2 separate regions of the Homo sapiens genome follow, and region 1 is linked to region 2. Evidence: fine-mapped expression QTL. Tissue or cell type: whole blood. Region 2 holds a variant in brackets; the other region holds the start of a gene. All regions are shown on one strand. Distances are between the middles of the regions. Region 1 holds the start of WDFY4 (WDFY family member 4). Region 2 overlaps WDFY4 (WDFY family member 4).

The links. PIP is the estimated chance that this variant, and not a neighbour inherited with it, causes the effect.
Region 1: WDFY4 starts here. The variant in region 2 is fine-mapped to the expression of WDFY4 in whole blood (TOPMed, PIP above 0.99). The same link has a PIP of 0.9 or more in blood mononuclear cells.

What each region holds. Positions count from the first base shown.
Region 1 is chr10:48,683,342-48,686,289 of GRCh38, reverse strand. It overlaps WDFY4 (WDFY family member 4), which reads right to left and starts at 1,417. Exons shown (of 62, transcript NM_001394531.1): 1 at 1,289-1,417. RefSeq lists enhancers at 627-1,167, 1,186-1,485, 2,416-2,495 and a silencer at 2,146-2,195.
Region 2 is chr10:48,722,542-48,725,417 of GRCh38, reverse strand. It overlaps WDFY4 (WDFY family member 4), which reads right to left. Exons shown (of 62, transcript NM_001394531.1): 5 at 1,851-1,985. Among named protein-coding and RNA genes, the nearest start is that of WDFY4, 39 kb to the right of the region's middle. The variant C/G (reference allele first, on the strand shown) is at 1,514.

The sequences.
Region 1 (2,948 bases), 39 kb after region 2:
AGACTGGTCTTGAACTCCTGACCTCAGGTGATCTGCCCCTCTCAGCCTCCCAAAGTGCTGAGATTACAGGCGTGAACCACTGCGCCTGGCCGAAATTTTCTTTTCTTTCAACACAGAAAATCTTTCCAAGTTCATGAAAGAATAGCCCATGTGCTCAGGATGGACAGACAGGAAGGGCCTCCCTGACCTGACCCTGTTCCCTACCTCTCTGGCCAGAACCCCAGGCATGCCCCTTACCCGGCTCTGCCACACCAACCTCCACGAGGTCTCCTCCTCCAGACCCTTATCAAGAACACTTCTCAGAAACCCACAGGACTCGGCCTCCCTCACAGGTCCCCTCTCAGAAGACTAGAGCCATCCCCACCCTCCCAAGACCCCCACCCTACCTGCTATTCTCCCACCTGCTGAGCACCGTAGACCCCTGTCCGCTTTGACCAGAGCCTGGCAGGGCGTGGTTTCTCAATACCTATTTGTTAAATAACTAAATGAATGACTATACATAAACTCATATTAAAATTAGTGTGCTCCATGGAAAGGGTAATGCATAGAGCCCTTAGTTATCAAACCAGCCCCCCCACACTTTAGATGAGTTGGGACAAAGGATCGGTTTAGTGTTCTAGAAGTTTCATTTCAGGGGAAAAGAAGAATCAGTCCTTACTGAGCAGGTGGCCCTGCTTAGGCAGAAAATGCAGGCGTTTCAATGGTTTGCTGTAATAATTCAGATGAGGGAAGTGAGCCCAGGGAGGCACCTACTTACCAGAACCCAGTGGAGTAATGACAGGGCCGGGATAGACCAGCTCCCTCTGAGGCCCGTTGGAAATGGCCCTCCAACTCTGCACTCCTCAGAGGCCTATGAGGGAGCTTGGAGGGCGAGCCTCACTGTCCTGTCGGCCTGCTCTCTCCGCCCCCTCGACAACCAGGAAAGCCCGTGTCAGCCCTTCCCAGGGTTCCCTTCATAGCAGGACCCCGAGAAAGGACTTGACCTACCGTCAGAGGTCGAGGAGTGCTGCTGGAGCCCAGCCTGACTCCCAAACTTCAGCAGTGACACACACTCAGGCAGACCCAGGCCCTGGAGTGGCCCTGACCACATGGGCCCCCCACGCCACACACACTTCCTGCTCCCCAGCTCACCTCCTCTCCCACATTCACAAACCCAAACCAGGCACTGGGTCACATGTGCCCCATAGTCAGCCTCCCAGGAGGCAGCCAGTAGGCCCCACGCTGACAGGCGGCGCCCATATGCCCACCTCTAGGCTGGCCTGGCTGGGCCAAGAGCAAGGTGGCCTACCTGGAGGGGTGGCCGTCAGCGCCTGTAGACATCAGAAGGCATGGGCCCCCTATCCCCAGCTGCAGCCCCTCAGGCTCGGGGGAAGAGGACCCGGCCCCACATCGTCAGTCCTCAGCGCCGTTTCACTCTGAATCACTGGAGCTGGGTCTCTGCTCATTTCCTGGAGAAAGCAGAAGTGGAGAGCCGGCAGATGCCTGACTCTGCCCACTCTCCAGCCGACCACGGAGCTGCTGGAGTTCTGGCGGGTGACTTGGGTTCTGCAGCAAGGCCCCTTGGGGCTGGCTGTGCAGCCTCCGTGGTCAAGCGGTGCTGGTTGGGGCCAAGGACAAAATGGAAAGTACAGCCCAGCCCTAGAAGAGTAGGTCTGGATTCTGTGTCCCCTCTTCACTAGCCGTGTGACCACTGGTGCACACCTCTCCTCTCTGGGCCTCTGGCAAAATGAGAACAATGATGGTGTTAGGTGAATCTAATCAGAGGTGTGTTTAAGTGCACCCCTGGACATGGCATGGGTTGGGCAGCCCTCACCCCACCAAGCTCAGAGTTGCCCACTTGGATTTCTTCCTCCCCCATCCTCAGATAGAACTTGAACCACCAATGAGGGGAGTCCTCCTGCGGCCAACACTGAGGCAAGGATGAGAGGACATCTAAAACCATAGAATGGAAGTCTCTGAAACTCAGACTCCAAATTCTCATTCCTCTGAGTATATAAACTAGGCTGAATTATCCATGTCACCTATCCATAACGTCATCTCCACAGTACAAACAAGCATGTCCATTCACACACAATCCTGCTTGTGCTCTGTAAAAGGAGAATTTTGCCAAAGAGCAAGGGCACTTGTTAGCGCTAATGCCTGATCCTTGATCCTCAGTGCAGCTCATCGCTTGTCTCTAGCTCACAAAACCAGTGGACCATGCATGACTGACTGAGAGGCAGCAACAACATCACTTGTTATGACATGGAGTAAAGCTCCAAGATTGGTTTAAAGAGGAAAATAACATTTGTCACAAAACCTCAACCTCCACCAGTGCAAACTTGTCAGTAGACAGCAGCCAAAATAGGAGATCTATCCAGCTGCACTCCAGTCTGGACAGCAAGAGCGAAGCTCCGTCTCAAAAAAAAAAAAAAGAAAAAAAAGAAAAGAAAAGAGAAATTGAAAGGATACATGCAGTGCCAGCCAAGGGAAAGAGAAAACCTTAGAGAATTTGCAGTGAAGTGTTTGTTGTATATGATGAAAACCCCTCGTCATTGTCACCAATGAAATCATAAATAAAATCTACAAGAAGATATTGCCTGAAATCAGAGGCCTATGGTAAGAGCGGATTAGACAGAGGAACTTCCACAGAGGCAGGAAGGGTGGCCAGCATGGGACAGGCCAGGACCCCATGCCTGTGAATGCCCAGAGGAAGCGCGGAGAGTCTGTCATAGTGGGATCTCGCAAAGTCTGCTGGAGGGCCCACCTGCACCCAGGTCTCCTACCTTCTACCCACCCCAGCACCTTGCCGGGTAGCCAGCAGCAGGCAGGTAAAGAGCACTAAATTCAGAGCTAGAAACTCAAGGTTGAAATTCTCACTATCTTAACTGAGATAATTGACATCTTATTTGCAGAATGAATGAATGCCTTGTTAGAAGGAACAAATCAAATAATATTTGCAAGAGAGG
Region 2 (2,876 bases):
TCCTGATGGCTAACAGAGGGACTTGCAAAACCTCCCTCTCCACTTGGGATAAAATCCCACCACCGTAGCATGGCCCATAGCATCCTGCATGGACTAGCACTGCCTTCTCACTCACTTTATCCACTGCAGCTCCCCCCTGGGCTCTTGGGGGTCCAACAGGACCTGCTGCCAGTGTGACAAATATCACAAGCTACTTCCATGGGAAGACATTTTCCCCTTCTAGTCTGATACAGAGAGAAGCTGGGCTTCATGGACCACAGCTGTAGGTCCCATTTCCCTGCCTCCCTTGCAGGTAGCTGTGGCCATGTGACCAAGGTCTCACCTGTCCCTGGGCTTGCATTGCCATTTCTCTGCTCCTCTCCACTTCCTCCACCCCACCCGGCCACACTACCTCCTCAGACCCTGACAACCCTCAGCTCTCTGGTTAAATGCCATGCCCTCAGAATAGACTCCACTGATTTCTCTCATACAAATAAAAGCCTGTCACCATCATTGCCCAGTATACCTTTGGCTTTACCTACATAGCACTTAAAAAATTGCTAACTACTGCACTCCAGCCTGGGCAACAGAGAAAAGCCCCATCTCTATTTTTTTAATTGCTAACAACACACTTATTCCTGGATTGTTTTCCCCTTGTTTGACTTCTTCATCCTTCTGTCACCTCTCAAAGTGAAGCCCTATGCTTGCTGCAGCAACCATCTGTCTGCCATAGAGCTGCGCACAGTAGGGGCTCTGTATATTTTTGTGAAATGAAGTAACAGAAACCCTTGAGCAATGCAGGAATGGTCTATTCCCTGTGGCACACATTCTGTCCACATACCCAGAAGACCTCGAAGACAGACCCTGCACTACTTCCCTTCAGGGCACCTAAAAGCCACACAGTAAACATTTGTGAAAGTGCCTGGTGCAGCGTCCTGGCCTCCAATTAGAATATGATTTACATACAAGCAGATGACACCTACATTTCCACAAATGCAGCTCAGAGGGTAACCCACTGTTAATGGAACCTGCCAGAACTCATGCACTACCCTCTGGAAATGAGGAATGGGCTTGGGAATTCGTCTAATGTGGATGCCAATGTGGACATGTGTGTACCATGGACAGCTGCATTTGGGAATTCACTGAACAGTCACAGGCACCTGCTCTGTGTGAGACACTGCAGACACTGGACACACAGCGACGGGCCCCACAGTCCTCTGTATCCTCCCGGGCCACACGATCCTCCATACCGTCCCCTGCAAGCTCAGGGAGCAGGAAGGGTTATCTAGAGAGCTCAGAGTCTCAGAAGGTGAGAAAGCAGAAACTGCCCGGAAGTGGGCAGGGGAAGGAGGTGAGAAGTTAGTCAGTCAAAGAGAAGAGGAAAGATGGGGAATGACAGAAGGAAATTGCATTTGATGCTTAGAGGCCTGAGATGTCTTCTGAGAGGAAGGAAGAGGCACCGAGAACATGTAAACTCAAGTTTACTCAAGGGTGCCAATCCCAGCCCCACCCAAGACTTCTATGACCCCAGACC[C/G]CATGCTCACTCACCATGCCTCAGTTTGTATGGACCCAGGATGACAACACTATTTACATCCTGTGATGGCAGACAGCAATCCTGGAGGTGACCCATGTGAGGCCATGGCACAGGGGTGGGTACAAAGCTTATATTTAGAAAATTTTGGCTACTATTTTGCTAGTGGGGCAGACTGTGCAGTGGTGGGGAGGGGAGGGGGAGGTTAGACCCTCTGGGAGAACAGAGGAGTTCAGGAACCAGGGCTGAGAAAGACAAAAGCATCTACGGGAAGCATTGGAGAGTCTGTCCCCGAAGTGAGGTTTTGACCCAGGGAATTGGAGGCCCTCCTTGAACTCACCTGCACGAACATCTTTTGAACTTGAAGATCACTCTCAAGAAGCTCATCTTTGTCCAGAGGAAAGACAAAGAAGAGGTAAAGGCACTGTAGGAGCAGGGCTGGAAGCCCAGACTCAGCAACCCTGCCCAGCGTCTCCTGCAAGAGAAGAGCACACGTGACCCCAGGCAGCAAGGCAGCAGAAGCAGGTCAGCCCAGACCCAGGATCAGGCCCCTGCAGCCATTTCAGTGAGGCCATGGGACAGTCCCTCTGGGCTCCAGTCCTCAAGTGTGAAATGCTGACAACCAGAGGATGCACCTAGGGTGGCTGTGAAGATTAAGTTTATATAAAGTGCTTACTATGTGCTCTATAGCTCCTTTATAAGATTCATAGATGGAAGGAAGGAAGGGAGGGAGAGAGGGAGGGAGAGAGGGAGGGAGGGAGGGTGGAAAGGAGGGAAAAGGGGAGGGACTGTAGAAATTAGAACATAAGGGCTTCCTAACAAATCATACTGTGTGACTGTGGTCCAGGGCCTCATGATTAGGAAGGGAAAGCAGTCCAGAGGTGAGGCTGATAATATGTGTGTGAGCAACAATGGTGAGGACCTGATCAGGCCCCTCCCCAACCTCTCATCTAGATCCCAGACAGATCTCGTCAAGGTCCAAAGAGTGCAATAGGTGATGACTGACAATCAGACAGCCAGCAACTCAACTAAACAGCTCAGGGCTGCCAGACAGAGGCCAAGAGGACAGGAACTCTGCAGAGATGGAGACCAGCCTGCCAGGAGCTTCCTGGGGTCTTTCTTCCTGGGGCTTTGCCTGCAGCTCCACCAGGATTACTGCACCTGCACCCTCTGTGTGTGCGTGTGTGCGCACGCACGTGTGTGTGTGTGCATGATGCATGTGTGCATGTGTGTGTGCACGTGTGTGTGTGCATGCACACATGTGAACACCTTTGGGGTCAACCTATGGAATGCTGTCCATGCAACTTCCCATTCCACTGGTTAACCTGACAGACATGTTGGGGAAGTCAGAGAAAGAGAAGGACGA